Linked DNA regions of Homo sapiens: region 1 is linked to region 2. The links come from fine-mapping of genetic effects on plasma protein levels. Region 2 holds a variant in brackets. A gene starts in the other region. All regions are shown on their forward strands.

The links. PIP is the chance, under the fine-mapping model, that this variant and not a neighbour inherited with it causes the effect. The UK Biobank Pharma Proteomics Project read protein levels with antibody pairs (Olink). The fine-mapping took linkage between variants from a reference panel, not from the people measured, so its PIPs are less certain.
Region 1: HAO1 starts here. The variant in region 2 is fine-mapped to the plasma level of the HAO1 protein (UK Biobank, PIP above 0.99).

The regions. Positions count from the first base shown.
Region 1 is chr20:7,935,657-7,946,390 of GRCh38, forward strand. HAO1 (hydroxyacid oxidase 1) reads right to left here and starts at 4,802. Exons shown (of 8, transcript NM_017545.3): 1 at 4,630-4,802. The coding sequence starts at 4,766.
Region 2 is chr10:50,874,864-50,885,428 of GRCh38, forward strand. The region is part of intron 1 of A1CF (APOBEC1 complementation factor); the gene reads right to left. Among named protein-coding and RNA genes, the nearest start is that of A1CF, 5.5 kb to the right of the region's middle. The variant G/T (reference allele first, on the strand shown) is at 7,893.

The DNA.
Region 1 (10,734 bases), not on the chromosome of region 2:
TTTAAATGAATGTTTCTGTGATTCTTCTGTGTTGGAATGAAAATTACCAATAAACCAGCAACCAAAAATTCACCAGTAAAATTTACAGAAGAACTAGTTCTCTTTCCTCCTGGCAAAATATATCTCTCCTATTTGTTTTGATTTATTATTCTCATTAGTACTGATTAAAATTGAAGAAAATACAGCCCTATTTCTAGTATGCATGAGTATAATAAACGTGTTGTTTAGGCACACATGCATATCTAACCAGCATTCACCTAGTATTTCCTAGATGTAACTCTACTTCCAGAAACAGCATGACTTTTTAGTAAATATAGTGAAGTATGATATAGTAATGCAGTAACTTAAAGAAAAAAAAAGAAGAAAAAGAAAAAGCCCTTAATCGAAGCGTGCTTCCTGTAGCGGAAGAAGAAATTCTGCCTTCTATTGCTTTGTGGAATAGCTAAGGGTCTGTAATCTAACCCTTCCTCACATAATAAAGTAAAAACATCCAGTCCCTGAAAAGCATAATAAAGAAGTTTTACTGTGTGATTTCTATGCTATTCCTTTGAACATTATAATTGTCATTATTTTATGCCACACCACATGCTCTGTTGCTGAAAGTCTTTTCTTCTTGACGGACCCTCACAGCATGATTCTTTGATCTCCATTTTGAAGGGGGAGAAGCAGAAGCCTTGAAGAGAGTTTTTATTACCAATCATCTCTAAGTGTGTTATTAGAATGAGAGAAAACGATCTTAATAGCAGCCATTGGCATGCCAGCCTTGGAAGGCATTAATATTTACTTAGAGCTAGAGAAACAATGAAAGCTTTATGACAAGAACAAGCAAATCTGCAGGGCAGCAGCCGTGTGTGTGTGTGTGTGTGTGTGTGTGTGTGTGTGTGTGTGTGTTCGCGCGCGCGCGCGCGCGTGCGTGCCAAAAGGGACATTTTTAAAGGTCAAATTCCCATTTATAAAGCAAAGCTGAATCCTTCCATCTCCAGACAGTGGCTTTACACTTGTCCACTTGGTGGCGCAGTCACTTTAGTAACTGCGGGCTCTTAATTTCCCTTAAACAGTATTTTCTGTTCTGAGGATAATACAGAGGCTTGTCAACCAATGCACAAAACGTAATTGCTACGTAAAATTAGATAAAATCAATGGAATGGGAACAGGCATGTTATCTAAAGAGTCCTCCATGTTTTGATATTTTTCAAATAGTAGTAACAACTATGTCAGATAGCTCACTAGCTTTCCAAGCCTTGCCCAACCCCACTCCAAATTTAAGTAAATTTCCCACAATCATACATAAAATAGCACCTCACTATATTCTCGGACTGTGCTTTCCTGGGCCTCCACTTTGGAAAAAGAATTGGTTCAACTGGCAAACAGTTGAACCAATTGAATAATAAACCGTTTTCAAAGGATAGAAAATGAGATGCCAGAGTAAAGGAAGCGGGGTAACGGGGAGAATCTGTTCACAGGAATTTTGGCCCACCCTCACATCTAACAGGGGCCTCAAATTTAACTTATAAAAAAATCAAATGATATATACACTCCTCACAAAGTAGCTGCCCTGTTGAAGGAAGACACCCATGCCTCACCCAGCTTTATAACTGCATGCTGTTTCTGAATCACACTAACTGGACATAGTGGATTCATGTTTTGTAAGTTGTGTAATCCTATAATACTGCATTCCAATTTTCTCCACATTAATTTTTTACTCTAAACAGTTAAAATATATAAAGCAAAAACACCTTATTCACCTATTGTGGATACTAGATAAATTATTTTGTGACATTTATGCCTATGAGAACACAATGTCACTGGTAACTTCATATCACTTCTCAAATATTAAAGTGAAAGAATGACATCACTTTTACCCATCTGTTATTTAAAAGAAAATGATGCCATCTTCAGTCTCAATAGGTAACGCAGCAGAAAAGAGTTTCCTTTTCTGAAATCATGAGGGCTTCTAAGTGTCGAAATTGTTTAATCATCTTCCATCATTGATAATTTCAGAAAAAAAAGCTACAACAACGTGAAGACCATAGTTGAGAAGGCTACTTTGAATAAATGTGTAAGAGAAACAAATTACTGTTCTTCGTTGAATTAATCCCAATCAATTCCAGCCATGCAAAATGTAGCAAGTTGACATTTACCCTGTTTTGTTATAACCACCGTAAGAAATTTTGTTCTGGGTGGTTCCATTTACTTGTCCTTTTAAACATTTTTTTCTACTGCCACAGTAATATTAGTCTGAAGTCTTACCCAAAAATATCTCCAAGCAACTGCTGGGTCACATGAGTGGTCCATGTCCCCAGAACTCCAAAATGTGATTATCAGAGCTGAGTACAGAGAAATAAAAGCTGTCACGGTGAATGACCTTTTGTTGTACTTGCGAGATGGGGAGGTGTATAAATTTCATAAATGTGTTTGAAATACTCTGGCTTTGTATCACAATGGGTTATCTGAGGTTTGATTGTTTTGCACTTTTCATTAGAATCAGAATGTGAAATTTCAGGTTGATTTCCTTCATGCCATCAACCCAAAGTCTCCACAACCCTGGCAGAATTTCTATTCTTAGTTTCACGTGACCAGCTACATGATGCAGTGTGAGGAATCAAGGTTCACCTAGCGAGTCATACAGCAAAAGAGGACACATTGCAAAATGTATTGCAATAAAAACTCAACTAGTTGATAATAAAATAGCATCAGCTGTCCTCCAAAGAAAGTTGATTGATTTTTTTTTTTAATTTAAAGCTGAACAAAAGAGAATGATCAAGGTTCATGGAAAAGGTGACACTGCAAATTCATTTTCATTATCTGTGTCCTATCCCTAAGTTACTCGGTACACACATAGGATGGGAATACTCACTTGAATACCATGTAATTCACATAAGGCATGAGGCACTTTTCCAGTTCATAACTTAGAAGTCACCAAGCCTTCTATGTCTCCCAAAGTTTCTACATTTTAAAGGGTTGCATAGGTGATCCATCTGCTTTGGGGCGCCCCTTTGCATCCTCTCTGAGACCTCCACTTGGCCAACTATTTTGGGCCCATTTTGCATCAATTCAACCCAACAGCATTATGGAGGCTGATATGCATCCAGGGGAATGTAAGTTCCTAGGGACAGGAACTTTGTCTGGCTCACTGCTTTGTCCTCAGCATGTAGTACACAGTGTAGCTCATGGAGACTCCTAATTAGCTCTAGTTAATTAGCTAGCATGCGACAAAGGGAATTAAGAAGTAAGGAAAGCTGTATACAAATGAAATAAATAATCACTTGAGCATTGGAGGTCTAGCAATGCTGAGACACTAACTCTATAAATCTGTCAAGGGTCTGAAATTTCCTTGGTTGTAATAACCTATTTGGGTTAAAGTGTTTTCAAGAGACCACTCATAGGCAAATTTTGGTGGACAAAGTTAATATCGGCCCAAGAAGGGGCATCTTCCAAGAGCAGAAACTTTTAAATGAGTCCAAAATAGTAAATAATGATGCAGAATTTTAAGCCCCTCTACTCTCAGTCAACTTCCCTTCCCATGACTTCCCTGGCATTTGTTGAGCTCATTTGGGTTCCAGGCAAAACCTGAGACAAAGTCAAGGCTTGAAAGGGTTGGGGAGAGGCCGTATCCTTCACCCCATTGCCATTTTCAGTCTTCTACATGGATTTGTGGGTGAATCAGTGCTGCCTACCAGAGACCACCTTGGCCAGGATAATTTTATTTCTCCTAATTTAAATATGGAAAACTGATTTTGAGTGATTTTGTTGTAGACTAAAGAAGAAATCAGGGAGGAAGGCTAATTCTCTCCCCCTGCATATTTTCTGCCTTTTTGTCTTTATCACCATCAATGAGTACCCACAATACCGATTGCCTTTACTAACAGCCATAATGTTAGATGGATGAGACTGAGTGTAGTGTAGTGAAGGCACTCCTCTCTTGCTCCAGCAAATAAACCATTTTTGTAACTGCTATAAAAAAAAACCCTTTGAAATGATTTTATTTCTTGTTTTTATTACAAACAGAAAACATAAACCATGTCACCCACCATCTTGTGCTTTGAAATATGAAAGTCAAAGGAAAACTAATTTGGGAAGAGAGATGAAGTGCTTTGAAGGAGAGATGAAACAGCAAAGTTGAAAGATTAATGCTGCATAGACAAATTGAAATCTAAAGTGAAAGTTTAGACAACAGTAATCAAAATGAATGATAACACGAAAAGCCAGCAGGAAGAAAACATTTGAGCCAACAATCCAGTCTGGTTCATCCGGATAAGATGGTTATCTGGCATTTAATGCTGTTTCCTACACCATGAACATAAGCATTTACTGTCATACTAAGAAAAAGAAAAGTCATCCGAATTTATCGCTATTTTTACATGTAGTTAAATTAATTGTTGTCATATTTCCAAGTGAAGTAACATAGGTTTGGCTTTTGCAGTCAGTTCCTCAAGATTCACAGGCTTGGAATATTTTTTAACAATTTAAAGGCCCAAGATTTCTTACAGCCCCAAGAACTTTTCCCTCTCTACTAAGCACAAATCTGAACAAATAATTACACACCACCAACGTAAAACTAGGAGATCTTATTTTGGTACGGTCTTTGTGTAATTTTAAAACATGATTTTAAAAAATAAATTTTCTTACCTGGAAAATGCTGCAATATTATCAGCCAAAGTTTCTTCATCATTTGCCCCAGACCTGTAATAGTCATATATAGACTTTGGAAGTACTGATTTAGCATGTTGTTCATAATCATTGATACAAATTAGCCGGGGGAGCATTTTCACAGGTTATTGCTATCCCAGATGGAGTTCGTTGTTTTTTTTTTTTTAATGTATTGCTTTCTACATCCTCACTGTTCTGTTATTTGTCAATTATTAATAGACTTTTGCCAAAGTTCAGATTTAGTTCTCTGTTGCTTACATCAAGTGAGCAAACATTATATGCTTAGCCTTTGAAATTTCATTTGTAGGCTATCTGCCAAAGAACACCGAAGTCACTATCTGCCAAAGAACACCAAAGTTGAGGTTGGGAAGGCAGCAGAAGGTGATTAGGTGTCTATCACATTAAAAAGGGGAAAGGAATAAGTAAAAAATTAAAGACTTAGAGGAATACCTGTATGAAACCACTCTTGGTTCAGTTTTGCCTAAGGCTGCTTATTGCACATGGTCTGTGCCTGTGCTCTTTGCTTGATACCCAGAATAGGCTGCCCACTCATTTTCTTTCCACATTTGGATCATGCACAAATCATGTAAACAAGAGCTTATGAACTGAACGGGGCATCCATGAAATATGGGGCATCCGTGAAATTCAGGGCTTCTGCACAATATAAAATTTAGCTGATTACAAACATAGACATTTGGCTTTAACATGGAACATTAAGGCCAAATTGACAGCTAATTGTTTTATTCATTCTGTATATTTGAGGTTTACAACATGATATTATGAGATACATATACACAGAAAAATGGTTACAGTAGGGAGGCCAATATAATATATGTATCATCTCACCCGTAATTACTTTTTTGTGTGTATGACAAGAACAGCTAAAATCAACTTATTTAACAAAAATTCCTAATATGATACAATTTTATTAACTTTAGTCCTCATTTTGCACGTTTGCTCTCTAGACCAGGGGTCCCAAACTCCCCAGCATGGACTGGTACTGGTCCGTGGCCTGTTAGGAACCAAGCTGCACAGCAGGAGGTGAGCAGCCGGTGAGCAAGCTTTACAGACTGAGCTCCGCCTCCTATTGTGAACTGCACATGCGAGGGATCTAGGTTGCGCCACTCCTTATGAGAATCTAATGCCTGATGATCTGAGGTGGAACAGTTTCATTCCAAAACCATCCACCTACCCCCACTGCCCATGGAAAAATTGTATTCCACAAAACTTGTCCCTGGTGCCGAAAAGGTTAGGGACCCTGTTGTAGATTTATGTATCCTACGTGTCTACTATTTTGTATCCTTTGACCTATATCACCCCTTTTCCTCTTCCCTGCTTCCCACTAGTGGTATTCACTGTTTCATTCTCTAGCTCTGTGCATTTGAAGTCTTTTTTAAAACAAAATCCCACCTATAAGTGAAATAATGCAATAATTTCCCTTTTGTGCCTGGCTTATTTCACTTAGCATAATGTTCTCTGGGTTCTACTGCAAATGACAGGATTCCCTTCTCTTATAAGGCTGAATAATATTTCATTGTGTGTATATCTATACATTTCCCTTATCCATTTGTCTCTTAATGGGCATTTAGGTTTACCATTAATTCTTTTTTTTTTTCTTTTTGAGATGGAGTCTTTCTCTGTCTCCCAGGCTGGAGTGCAGTGGTGTGATCTCGGCTCATTGCAGCCTCTACCTCCCAGGTTCAAGAGATTATTCTGCCTCAGCCTCCCAAGTAACTGGGACTACAGGCATGTCCACCACGCCTGGCTAATTTTTGTATTTTTATTTAGTAAAGATGGGGTTTCACTATATTGGCCAGGCTGGTCTCAAACTCCTGACCTCAAGTGATCCAACCACCTCGGCCTCCCAGAGTGCTGGGATTGCAGGTGTGAGCCACTGCACATGGCCTACCACTAATTCTTAGAGTCTTATCTTGCCCTGGAGAGGGTATAGGGAAGTGCTATTCCAAAAGACCTGTGGTCTCAGTCTATAATTTCACTCAATCATGGAACACCTGGGGAAGATTCACATTAGTAGGATATGCTTGAGAAAGCAATGATTTTAACTACAGTTAGACCTGAGTTTCAATCTAGGAGCCGCCACTTAAAGCTGCTTGCCAGTTGTTCACTATCTACATTCCAACCACCTACACCTGTAGGAGAACTTGCTCTTGAACTTGGAGCCTGCTTTTTTCATAAACATAGCATGCCAAATAGTATAGTTCCATACCCTGTGGAACAGCCCTCAATCACAAGCCCAAGAAAGTTCATTCTTCTGGTGGGATTACTCCTAGGATTATGTTCTACATTGCAGGTTTCAGTTATCCACAGTGTGAGCTGGTTGATAATCTATGCTGTGTTGGCTATGTTCCTTTTTTGTTTGTTTTTTGTTTTGAGATGGAGTCTCACGCCGTCACCAGACTGGAGTGAAGTGGCGCAATCTCGGCTCACTGCAACCTCCGCCTCCCAGGTTCAAGCAATTCTCCTGCCTCAGCCTCCCGAGTAGCTGGGATTACAGGCTCATGCCACCACACCCAGCTGATTTTTGTGTTTTTAGTAGAGATGGGGTTTCACCATGTTGGCCAGGATGGTCTTGATCTCTTGACCTCGTGATCCGCCCAACTCAGCCTCCCAAAGTGCTGGGATTACAGGCATGAGCCACCGTGCCCGGCCTGGCTGCCTTCCCTTCTAATCAGACTTCCCTACTCCTCATTGGTGCTCCCTTCACCTCCCAAATAAACTCCTTGCATTTGAATGCTTGCCTCTCAGTCTCCTTTTGGTGAAACTCAAACCAAGACAAAGAGAAATATTCATCCCTACCCTGAGGAGTGACTGTGAGGACAAAGGATATATCATCGCTTAAACACCTGGCATATAGTAGGCACAGTTGACCTTTGAACAAAAAAAAGGGTCCACTTATATGTAGATTTTCTTTAGATTCTTCCACCCCTGAGACAGCAAAACCAACTTCTCCTCTTCCTCCTGCTCCTTATTCTACACAATGTGAAGATGACAAGGATGAAGAGTTTTGATGTACCACTTACACTTTATGAATAGTAAATATATTTTCCCTTCCTTATGATTTTCTTAATAACATTTTCTTTTTTCTAGCTTGCTTTATTGTAAGAATACAGTATATAACACATGTAACATATAAAATATGTGTAAGTTGATTTTGTTATTGGTAAGGCTTCCAGTCAACAGTAGGCTACTAGTTGTTAAGTTTTGGGGGAGTCGAAAGTTTTACACGGTGGGTCGGTACCTCTAACCCCCATATTGTTCAATGATAAACTGTATTTCATTAATATTACCCACCCTCATCTTCTCAATATACTTTACCAACACATTTTTCCAAAAGACTTTTGTTTAATGTCAATTATATAAGGACAATTCCCTAATGTACGAGAGATTGGACAAAGGGATTCTTGAGCTTCTGGAAGGCCATTGCCATTTTTCTTCAAGTAAGTTAATCCCTTTGAGTATTTCTTTGCTAGATTTGCAATTAGTCCAGTTTATTTTCTACACCCCCAAGAGAAGTGTCTTTCATAACTAATGTATATTTATATTATCAGATCTTTTTGAAAATTGCCTTATCCCATGCTTCATGAGGCTTTATATGGTAGAAAGAATAGGGTGTAAAATCATATCTTACAGTGGGTAAATACCCTTTGAGTTTATTTTGGAGAAGGAAAATCGTCTAAGATGAAGAAGAATACTAAGGGGTTCAGTATGTAATCTGTGACTTAGTTTTGACCTGTGGCCACAGAGTGAACACAAAGCACGGTCACCTGTTATATGAAATTCCCATGCTGTGGGTCACCAAAAGGAGCAGGAGAGAGGATATGGATCAAATCTATTTTTACTACTGACAAAGCAACTAGAAACCAAAGATGCAGGCTCCATAGCAGCCTATTAGGCAAACTGGGAATGAAACCAGAACCAAAAATATAAGCCATTAGGTCTTTCCCAGCTGTAATGATATAGTATATAAAAAATAAAGGGTTTTAATTTAATCGAAGGGTCATATGCTGTTAAAATTGACATAGAATTTTATAGTACATAGGTTTATTCTCAAAGTTCACAAATGCTTACTTTTTGCATCAATGTAGTGACAGATGAAATGACATATTAAAATCGCTATTAGGATGTGAAAAATCTGCCAATAAGATAAGCAAGTTCTAAATAATTCAGTTTCATAGTTAACAAAATTATTATGAAAATGTGGTCAAAGGGATCTTAATTATGGCTTATAACTCATTCAAAATGTAAAGATTAAAGCATGACCTTTTATCTGCATATTTATGTGCAAATTTAGCATTTATTAAAATAATTAGCATCCTGCAACTAATGTGATTAGAATGAAGAGGCAATCTAATATTGTTAATCAGGTCAAGTCCCGGTGAAACTAAAGAAGACACATAAGGGCCATTGGTTCTTAAAGTGTGACTTTGAACCAGCAGCATCAGCATCACCTAGGAAGTCATTAGAAATGCAAGTTCCAGGCGTCATCCTAGTCCTACTGAATCAGAAACTCTACAGCTATTTGTGCTGTAACAAGCCTTCCAGGTGATTTGATGCACAACATTGTTTGAGGACCATGGTTTAGGCGAGATGGAATGTAAAGGGGGACTTTTTTCTTAAGAGGCTTATTCTTTTTTATAATTTCAACTTTTATATTAGATACCAAGGCACATATGCAGCTTTGTTACCTGGGGATATGGAATGACGCTGAGGTTTGGGGTACAAATCCTGTCACCTAGGTAGTGATCACAGTACTCAATAGGTAGTTTTTCAATCCATGCTCCCTTCCCTCCCTCCCCACTGTAGTAGCCTGCAGTGTCTGTTGTTCTCATATTTATGTCCATGTGTGCTCAATGTTTAGCTTCCACTTCTAAGTAAGAACATGCAGTATTTGGTTTTCTACTCTTGCATTAACTCACTTAGGATTATGGCCTCCAACCATCTCCATGTTGCTGCAAAGGACATTATTCCATTCTTTTTTATGGCTGTACAGCATTCCATGGTATATATGTACCACATTTTCTTTATCCAATCTACCACTGAAGAGCACCTGGATTGATTCCATGTATTTGCTATTGTGAATACTGCATCAGTGAACATATGGGTGTATGTGTCCTTTTGGTAGAATGATTTATTTTCCCTTGGGTATATGCCAGTAATGGTATTGCTGAGTCGAATGGTAGCTCTATTTTAAGTTCTCTGAGAAATCTCCAGACTGCTTTCCACAGTGGCTGTACTAATTTACATTCCCACCAACAATGTATAAACATTCTCTTTTCTTCACAGACTGTCCAACATCTGTTGTTTTTTTTGACCTTTTACTAATAGCCATTCTGACTGGTGTAAAATGGTATCTCATTGTGATTTTGATTTGCATTTTTCTGATGATTAGAGATGCTGAGAATTTTTTTATGTTTCTTGGCTGCTTGTCTGTCTTCTTTTGAGGAGTATCTGCTCATATACTTTGCCCATTTTTTAATGAGGTTATTTGTTTCTTGCTTGTTGATTTCTTTATGTTCCCTATAGATTCTAGATATTAAGCCTTTATTGGACGCATAATTTGCAAATATCTTCTCCCATTCTGTAGGTTGTCTATTTACCCTGTTAATAGCTTCTTTTGCTGTGCAGAACCTTTTTAGTTTAATTATGTCCCACTTTTCCATTTTTGTTTTTATTGAAATTGCTTTTGGGAACTTAGCCAAAAATTTCTTGCCAGGGCCAATGTCAAGAAGAGTGTTTCCTAGGTTGTCTTCTAGTAATTTTATAGTTTGAAGTCTTACATTTAAATCTGTGATCCATGTTTAGTTAATTTTTGTATATGGTGAAAGGGGTCCAGCTTCAGTCTTTGGCATATGGCTGGCCAGCTATCCCAGGACAATTTATTGAATAGAGAGTCCTTTCCCCATTGCTTGTTTTTGTCAGCCTTGGCAAGAGTCAAATGGTTGTAGGTATGTGGCATATTTCTGAGTTTTCTTTTCTGTTCCATTAGTCTATGTGTCTGTTTTTGTACTAGTACTATATTATTTTGGTTACTGTAGCTTTATAGTATAGTTTGAAGTTGGGTGG
Region 2 (10,565 bases):
GCCTGGACTCATGGTAGAATCACCTGTGCTTAGGCATCATCTTACCCTCCCGGAAGGATTCTGATTCAGCTGGTTTGGAATGGGGCCCAGGAAATGACAGATTTTAAAGCTTCTCAGGTGATAACAATATGCAGTTGCATCTAGAACAGCTGACTGAAGCTCTAATTTACACACGTGACAGGTCAAACAAAACAATTGAGAATAATTGAATTTATTCCACCAGCCAAATACATGGACCATATACTCACATAAAAAATCTAATTAAAAAGAAAAAGACTACATGAGAAAGGTAGAAATTAGACAGCAGGAGAAAAGAATAATTCAAAATTTTCTCTAATAATTGTTTTGTCTATGGTTTCATCATTTCTAATGAGTAAATGTTTTCCTAGTTGTATTTATAAATAAAATCCTTGAAGTACCTTAAAAAATCTGACTCTTACTAAATTCTGGCTCAAATGGTTTGTTTCAACTCAGTTTTGATGAGGACTCGCCAATAAGATATTTATATGACCACTGCATGCATAAAACTAGTACTTGTTGTGTGGTTCTATGTACGGAAAGGAAGCAAAAGCTGTGGGGTAGAGAAAGGACAGAGAGCAAGGAAATCTCTTAGGAGAAAGGAGCAGATGTAGGAGAGTTGAGTCAGGTGAATAATGAAGAGCCTGAGCAGTTCTGTGAATTGCTATGAATTCTAACTCTGAAGTCCTAACAGTCTCTTTATCCAGAGCAATCTTCAATATAGGCACCTCATGAAGCCTGGATCTTAACTTGTTTTCTGCTTTTGGTACATATGTATCCTTACCTGTTGCCCTCTCTACACTCCTAGCTCTATTTCCCACCCCATCTTCCATTACTGGACTTACCCTGAGCTCAGCTAAAGTGTAGAGTGAAAGAAATGTCACTGCTTACTACCCTCTAGGCATGGCATATCTGTTCTGCACACCACTGGAAGATCAATCTCCCTAAAATATTCCTTCTAGTATTCTCCTGCCCCAAATCCTTCACTGGACCCATCACTAACTAGAAAGAAACAGTTCAGCCCCTTAACCTGACATTCAGTGCCTGCCATGACCTGGTCGTAACTTGACTTTCCTGATTTTCTTTCAATACAAGTCTGGAGCTATTCCATGCTCAAGTCCATCAGGTCTCCTAGGCACACCAGTTGCTTTTTATTTTACCTAGGCGCCTTTGTCCTTGTTTCCCATTTCCCACATGCCTAGGATTCCCATTATTCTTTCTATAATTTCCCTGGCTAAGCCAAATTCATGTCTATTCCATCAGATCTTGGGTATATGTGATTGTGTGTATGTATAGATGTATAAGTGAACTAGCACATATGTGCAGACATGAATACGTATATACACACAGGGCCGAATAAATTCTGAGAGGTCAGTGTTTGCAGCACATCACACAAGAAACCTACCCCTTTCCTTTTGTAATTGCTCTGACTTCAATACTGTCTTATAAATTGTCCAGCCTGTGCTCCACTTGGACAAGCTTATCAGAAACTCAGAAACAGGAATACTCATAAGTGCTCTGTCCTTGTCAACACTGAAGATTGAGAGATGAATGATAGGTTTTTAACCCCAAAAAGATCTTGGAAAATTTTAACAGCAGATGCAATGTGAGTGGGCCTCATCCAATCAATTGAAAACCTGAATAAAACATAAAAGCTGAGTAAGAGGGAGCTGGGCCTGCATGACAGAGCAGGGACATTGGCCTTTCCTGATCTTCGGACTTGAAATATTGGCTCTTCTTGCGTCTCTAACCTGATGGCTTCTGGACTGGAACTTACACTATTGCTTTTCTGGGTCTCAAGCCTTTGGACTTGGGCTGGAACTATGCATGGGCTCCCCTGAATCTCCAGCTTGCTTACTGCAAATCTTGGGACTCCTGCTTCTATAATTGCATGAGCCAATCCCATAGAATAAATCTCTTTATTTGTATTTATATGTGTAGACTTACATATTTATATGCATACTTACACAAATTTATATTTGTTTTATGCATTTATAAATGTATTGCCTATATATACATATACTATGTTTTCTTCTAGAGAACACTGAATAATACATACACGTAACTCTGTTTTTGTGCTGTTATTGTTCTAGTACCTGTAAGATCAGACTACTACAGGTGACTGTTGTGCTATCTTTATTCAATTATGATACTCAACTATTCCCAAAATGCCTGACTTCTAGAAGATTCCTGGGGAAGAGAGTTGACAGAATTTAGAAATTATAGAATGACATGGCCTAATGAAAAAAGCAGAATGTCTTTGTATATATGTTTAATTTTTAAGTTGTCTTTTGAATTGGTAAAGTGGTAATCATGGTATACAATGTAGATATTCTTCAGCTTAAAAGCAGTTGATTATTCAATAGTCCTGGTACCAATTATTTGCGTGGTATATTATAGAGACCTGATGAGCTGTGTGTGGTCTATTTCATTCATTCATACTTCTAGTGTTATGTTTCTCCCTCTCTTTTTAACCTTATTGAGACTCTGACCTTCTGAACTTAGTTGCTGCATCTGGTTTCCTCAGACCAATTTGGAGAAATTTAAGTTGAAAACTCAATTTTCACCAAGTCTGCCAATCACTGACTAATGGAGTACATTTGATCTCTGAGTGAAGCTTTAAAAAATCCATCTAAAGCTCTGTGTTACAGTGGCACAGAAGCAATCTGACACTTGTAAGGAAAGATAGCCTTATGTTTCTATTTTAAAAGCCATATTATATTTGTTCTGATTTTATGCTAATTTACATGCATCATCATAAGTGGCTTTGAGTACTGATCTTTTCTTTCATAGTGATGAAAATAATAAAGTCTTAGAGATTTGCATTCTGGTGTGAGGATCTGTATTTCTCTTTTACTTCCTCTGATAATTACCCAGTTTCCTTCAAATCATTCTCTACTAATTTAGAAGACCCTGTCTGTGATAGGGAGTGTCTCTGTCTTAGAAAAAACTGAAAGAGGGCCGGGCGCCGTGGCTCACGCCTGTAATCCCCCCACTTTGGGAGGCTGAGGCAGGAGGATCACGAGGTCAGGAGATCGAGACCATCCTGGCTAACAAGGTGAAACCCTGTCTCTACCAAAAATACAAAAAATTAGCCAGTTGTGGTGGCACATGCTTGTAGTCCCAGCTACTCAGGAGGCTGAGGCAGGAGAATCGCTTGAACCCGGGAAGCGGAGGTTGCAGTGAGCTGAGATCACGCTACTACACTCCAGCCTGGGTGACAGAGTGAGACTCCATCTCAAAAAGAAAAAAAAGAAAAAAAGAGAAAAACTGCCAGAGAATCAGGGAGAGACTGTTTCAAATTTCTACTACAAGCCAGTGATGGGGATAGAATTAATTTCTAAGCCACCTCATTCTACTTTAAAAAGCACTGTACATTTTTACCTCATGGCCTCTTTCTCATCTATTTTCCTCTAGTAAAGCATTTTGTAATCAACACAGAAATATGATGAGAGTTATAGCTAAATGGCTAAAGTTTATGCACACTTGCTTGGTATTATTCTAAGCACTTTACAATTTCTGATCTAATTATTGAAACAACCCTGACTTTACAGAAGAGGAAATAGTCACAGAGTTCAGTAATTTGCCTAGAGTTAAATTGTAGCAAGTGGTAGAGCCAGAATTTGTATCCAAGCATTCCAGATCCAGAGCCTTCTGCTTTAACATATGATTTGTCTCCCACTCTGCTATGCCAACATCACAGGTCAGAGCTTTGGATCATTGGGCTTTAGGAAATCCTTTGCAATTCTGAGTTACTAAATTATTATAGAAAGGATTTGATTTTACGGCTTGTTTTTAAATGTCAGAGAAAACTAAGAGTTTCCAGGCATTATAGGTTTTTCTCTTAAAATATCTTAAGGGTCCATATAATGGCATTTGCTGCATGATGTCAATTCAAGTTAATGCACCTGTTAAATATCTGTGATTTAATGAGAAAACTAGACATGGATGAATTAGTATGTTGCAAGTGTGATACTCAAATGACTTTACTAACAAAATTCTTTAATAAGTTAATTCCTTAAAGATCAGACAAATACCTGCTACTCAAGTCCCTTATATCACCCCCAAGTTACTTGTGACACTTCCTCCCTGGACCATCTGCTCTTGACATCTTCTCTTCCCTATCATCAAAACTTGCTTCCCACAGGGCTTTGCCAGGCTAGTCTGTTAAGCGATTTTAGTCCCTATCACTCACACCCCGCATCCCAACTAATTTGTATTTTAACAAAACTTGTGGGAACAAACTCTTATTCTAAATGAGTAACTCTATTCAGGTTGGTGGAGCTGCTATTTGGGAGCATCTGAGTCTCAATTTAAAGTTCTGAATTAGGTCAGTTTAAATATGGGACTCCCTTAGCAGACACAGACCTAGCAGCCCAATTATTTTTTCCATGGGGAAAAGGGTATGTCCTCCAGGTAGGAGGTGCTATGTCCTCTTCAGACACTAACAGAATTTGAGTGTAATTGCAACCAAGTCATTCATCACAATTACTTTTTATTTTTATCAATGCCTCCATGGTTTATCCTGTCACTATGTTCATGGTGCCTGTATTAGTCTGTTCTCATACTGCTACAAAGAAATACCTGAGACTGGGTAATTTATAAAGAAAGAGGTTTAATTGACTCACAGTTCTGCATGGCTGGGGAGGCCTCAGGAAACTCACAATCATGGTGGAAGGCAAAGGGGAAGCAAGCTTAGGCCTTCTTATGTGACAGCAGGGGAGAGAAGTAGTGTGTACAGAAGGAAAAGTCAAACACTTATAAAACCACCAGGTCTCATGAGAATTCACTCATTATCATGAAAACAGCATGGGGGAAACCACCCCCATAATCCTATCACTTCTCACCAGATTCTTTCCTTCAGGCCTAAGGATTACAATTCAAGATGAGATTTGGGTGGGGACAAAAAGCTAAACCATATCCATGTCTGTGTCTGCATGTATTTCCTCTGTGATGTGGGCCTGTCAGTCTCTCCAAGTCACAAAATGGGTCTCCTTTAACTGAGTCTCTGGCTAGGTCAGTCCATGAGTCTGGGCACAGCAAGGAAGGTGAGACTTGGAGTGAAGGGAGTATTCCTGTTTAACTATAGGGATTCTATTAATTCGTCTCTCAGAATTTTCACAGAGAATCAGGCTGAATTAGAAATGCTTTACAGTGGGAAGTGGTATAATGGAAAAGTATCCACAGAGGGTTCAGGTTCTGCTCTTGGGTTCTCATTCTAACAAAAACCCAAGCTGGGGAACCCAACTTGCTTTTCTCTGTCAAATAAAGGATCTCAAAAGTTTTCTTCAGTTCTAAGCCTTGATGCTTCCCAGTGTTCCATTTGTCCTTTGTTCACAGGGTGGCCTGTGCCAGACTGCCCGGACTCACTCCTGCACCACTTATTAGTGGTGTGACCTGGGGCAAATTTCTCTGTGTCCCTAAGCTGTAGCTGCTTTATTGGAAAAATGGCGTAGCAATAGTACCCATTCCATAGAGTGATGGAGGATTAAATGAGTTAACCTATGTGCCTGGCATGTGGCAGGATGTAAGAGGATGTAAGAGATTTTATTAACATCATTGTTATCATCATCGTAGGGTGCCAATTATAATTAGTTGGTAGTAAGTACATGAATGGCGAGGAACTCTTAGGGATCTTCGGAAAAGAAGGTTAGAAAGAGGATTCCTGAGATGAACATCTATATGTGCCAACACAGTTTTCCCCCCATGGAACCTGATTTTGATTTCTGACTTCCATTTCAAATAATCAGAGGCATTAGAGTTTAATTACATCTAATAATTTAAAGTACATTTTAGTTCATGCTGAAGGCCCCAGATGGAAAGATAAGCACTAAGCAGAATCCCAGTAGAAGAGCTGGATAGAATACTAAAATCAATAGAAATAAAAAATTTCATTTGTGCACAATGTTTTGCCAGTCCCCTGCCAGGCAGGTAGGAGATTTTATAAACCTCTGTTCCTTTATATCTTTCACTGTGTTAGTCACAGCATCTGGACTGAGTTATAATTACATCTTTTTAGGGCTGTTTTCTTCTAGGTCCCATATGGGGGTGGTTCTTCTCTCACCTTCCACATGGACCTTTATGTCCTCTCTTCACTGTTTTCATTTAGACTCTTTTTTTTTTTTTGAGGTGGAGTCTCACTCTGTCGCCTAGGCTGGAGTGCAATGGTGCGATCTCGGCTCACTGCAACCTTCGCCTCCTGGGTTCAAGTGATTTTCCCGCCTCAGCCTCCTGGGTAGCTGGGATTACAGGTACCCACCACCATGCCTGGCTAATTTTTGTATTTTTCTGGAGGTGGGGTTTCGTCATGTTAGCCAGACTGGTCTTGAACTCCTGACCTCAGGTGATCTGCCTGCCTTGGCCTCCCATAGTGTTCGAATTACAGGCGTGAGCCACTGCGCCCGGCCTCATCTAGCCTCTTAACTGATAGGTACATTAGTTAATGTCCAGTGAAGTTGGACATCATTGTGTTACATAAACAGAGTTGGGCTTATAAACGATAGGTGGGAGCATCTTTCAGTTAATCAGATTTGTACAATTGGAATGGTGAATATTGACACAGTTACCTTGAAGAAACTAGGCATACTGAATTGACATCAACTATAAGAAATTTGCCATTAAAAATCTTTATAAGTTCTTGTATATGAAAAGCTTTATAAACTAGAATATCCTATGGAAATAAGATATTGTAGTTAGTTCTACTACTTAAACCTAGTGATTTTTAAATCAATTGGGCATCCTAAAACAATGAATAGTTTTTAATTGCTGGAGGGAGGGAAGGCATCACTACATCACTACTGCAGGTGGGATTTTATAGAATTATAAACCAATCTGCTCACTTAGACATTCTGTCTGCCTAAATTGTCATGTGTTAATTCTCTTTAGTCATATTACATCTGGAGCAGAGCATTGCACTTAACTGTGCAAATCAGAAGGATTTATCTTACATCCTTATTAGTATTTCTCTCTTAATATTACCAGGGACCAATTCCTATTGAATAAACAAACTTGGAAAATGTTCTCCATGTGATTGTTAATACATATATGCATAAAACTCCACATATAAATCTATATAGGATAAAAATCTTAGCTTACATATGTTTAAAAGAAATCAAATTAGAGCTCTCAAGATACCAGCATATCTTATACAGGACGATGATTTTTTACAAAAGGGCATGTTTTAATTTTTGGATTGCATCAATCAAAAATATTCAATACAAAATTTTAGTTTATTAAATTAAAAATTCTAAGTGGTCATTAAAACTGATAACCTAGACCGGGCATGTTGGCTCATGCCTGTAATCCCAGCACTTTGGGAGGCTGAGGCAGGCAGATCATGAGTTCAGGAGTTCGAGACCAGCCTAGCCAACATAATGAAACCCCGTCTCTACTAAAAATACAAAAGTTAGCCTGGCATGGTGGCGTGTGCCTGTAATCCCAGCTACTCGGGAGGCTGAGGCACAAGAATCACTTGAATCCAGGAGGTGGAGGTTGTGATGAGCTGAGATTGCACCACCACTCCAGCCTAGGCAACAGAACGATACTCCATCTCATACAAACAAACCATCATCAACAACAAAAAACTGATAACCTAGTTGGAGTAGATTTGATGAAATGAAATGATGAACTAGCTTTCCTGGTTGAATCAGCAGCAAACATTTGTTAATAACTCTCCAGATTTTACAGGATCAGGCCAAGGAGCAGATGGGATACAGATTTCTAATACAGAATGTCACCGCAAGAGTGCTGCTCCTTTTCCAGATGCTTTTCCTGGGGGCAGTTGGATTGTGAGAGCTGCACTTTGCAGGAGCCTGGTTACTGTTTCTGTGAATAAGATAAAATGGTGTTTATCCTCTGTCGATCAATACTGTCTT[G/T]TTTGAACTTATTGAGTCATTTTAGAGACACATAAGGTAATGAAAACCATTGTGCAATAGTACCCACAGTACTACTCAGCTTTCTAAGGGATGACAATTTTTAAAAGACAGTTACTGAAACAGATTTTTAACATCAACTGCCTCCATGATGAAATGAGCATGCACTGTGTCAGGGTGTCCCATGGGTTTGGGTGAAAAGGTGTTGGGGTTTTATAACTAAGAGTTTTCTTCAGCAATAATCTCTAAAATAAAAATATACTCTGTGTGTGTGCTTTAATACTAAAAAAATTTACAGACTGTCTTTCTCTGAATAAATGGAATAGTGCTACTATTTGTGATTAATCAAAATTTTTTATGTACAGTTTGTGATTTCAACTTTATTAGTATTGTTTTGAAAAACAAGGCCTAATAGGTATACTTGGGCAATTTTAGAAAATTTTTCTGGAGGTTGTTACAAATAGGAAAATGAAAAGGGAAGTGGGGTTTTTGCTGAATTCTTAAGTACCGGGGACCACATTTCTCTCCTTTGCTTTATCATCTAATTTAAACTTCACAAAATACTATGGGTCAGATCTTACCCCCATTTCACATTTGAGGAATCTGAGATTCAGTGGAGTCAAACAATATGCCCAAGGTCACAAACCTAGGGAGTTTTACAATAGGCGTTTCCACTTAGCTGTGTCGAGGCACAAAGCCTAGTGTTCTTTCCGTAATTAATTTTAAAAGTTTCTCAGATAGGCATAGTCCTATTTGGTGGAAGACTAGACTCTAAAGTCCTTTAGATTTTTCAACTGTGATTATTTCAATGGATTCTGATTGTTCTGAATGCTGGACATGGGCTATAAAAGCGATTTGGTCTTTCTTGTTCTGTATTCTGAGAAATGCCAATTTTGAGAGATATTGATAGATGTTCCTGAAAGAAGATGTTCTGTTGTAAATTAAGCCCAGGAAACAAAACGTTGCCTACTCTCTTAGATAGTTGTGATAAATGACAATATTTGCATGTGTCATGAGTCCCCAGTGCTCGAGCGTATGATATAATGGTTACGTGCTTGGGCTCTGGATCAGACTACCAGACAAAGGAGCCTGGCTCTGCCACTTGCTAACTGAGTAGCTGAGCCTGTTAGGTAATTTGTCTGTGCCTCCATTTTCCCATTTATAAACTGTTATAATAGTATCACACCATAGAGTTGTTCCAAGAATAACATGAGATAATGCATGGAGAGAACTTAGAAGTAGACCCGATAATATAGTGCTTCACAGATGCTTGTTATCATTATTACTCAAAACACTCATGTGGTAACAAAACCTGCTATAACTTTTCTAACACTGTTTCCTCAACTTACTTGACAATGGAGTTGCTTTTCTTTTGAGCCACATTTATTAACATCCACTGAATATAGTGTAGGAAATGTTGATATTTGAAATGACATAAAACCACCTTGGCATTAGTGCAGTAGAAAATAAGAACAAAGTATTTATAGTGTTTTAATATCCATTATGTCATTTTATAATGTTTGCCCACAACAATATTTCTTTTCCTTGCCAGCTGTCTTCTTTTTTCCCTTGAAATCGATAAATAGTAAAATAGAACAGTAAAATGTTAAGAGTTGTCTGAAATGGGCAGAGTCAATGTTATTCCAGAAAGTATGAACCTTATAAGTCATTTGTCTCTTTCTCTGTATTTAGCAGGGCAAAACCTTACTGCTTTGACAAATAAGTGATATCACTGTCATTTCCAGACCTGTGCTCCCATTGCATGCTCCATAGCACACGTTATAAAGAAAATTTCAGAGCAGACCAACACATTTTTTGATGCTCCTAAACTATAACTAGAGCTGAATTTGCCAAAATACGATCTATAAAACACTAATCCTGCACAATGTGCAAATAATGCTGTGTTCTTCATCTTCTTGGAGATATACAATACATATCTGAAAAGTCCTATAGTAAATAAAATTGTTTAGTTTGGAATCCTTTCTTCTTGGAATTTACATAGGTAATCATGACAAAAAGTCAGAGAGTTTAGGGGGTTTCTGGTAAAAATGGGATATTTTTGGTAAATGTCCAGATTGATTTCTTTCTTTAGCTAAAATACCATTATAATGTTTTTGGAGTACACAAAAAAAATATGTGAAAATATATCCACCTCAGCACAGTTGCCCAAATTGTGGAAACAATATAATAATTAGCCATTCCAAGGTTCAGATTTAACACACTGAAAACCAGTCATTTTCCATAATATTTTTTTGGTCAGAATCAAAAGTGAATAGTTTAAACATTCCTTTGGTTAGCAAGATAATGGCAGGCGGAATCGCAAGAGTTGTACCAAGACTTTCTTTTTTATGGTGGTAGTAGCTCTGGAGATAATTGAATATATGAAGTCTAAAGTATGATAGGAATTATGACCCACACACAGAACTCAAAATCTGCTGGTGATGTTAATACTATTTCTTTTGTTAATTATATTTTTGTTTCTCAGGGTCCTAGGATTGGGACAGGCACTCAACCACAACTCTCCCTGCTGTCTGGTTAGAGCTAAATAAACTTCTCACAACATTGGCTCCACTCTTGAACCCTCCGTGGTAAGTCTACAGAAATTTATTAAATCCTGGCAGCTATCTCATTTAGAGATTATATAATAATTCCAATATATTCTTTTGTTTTCTGGTT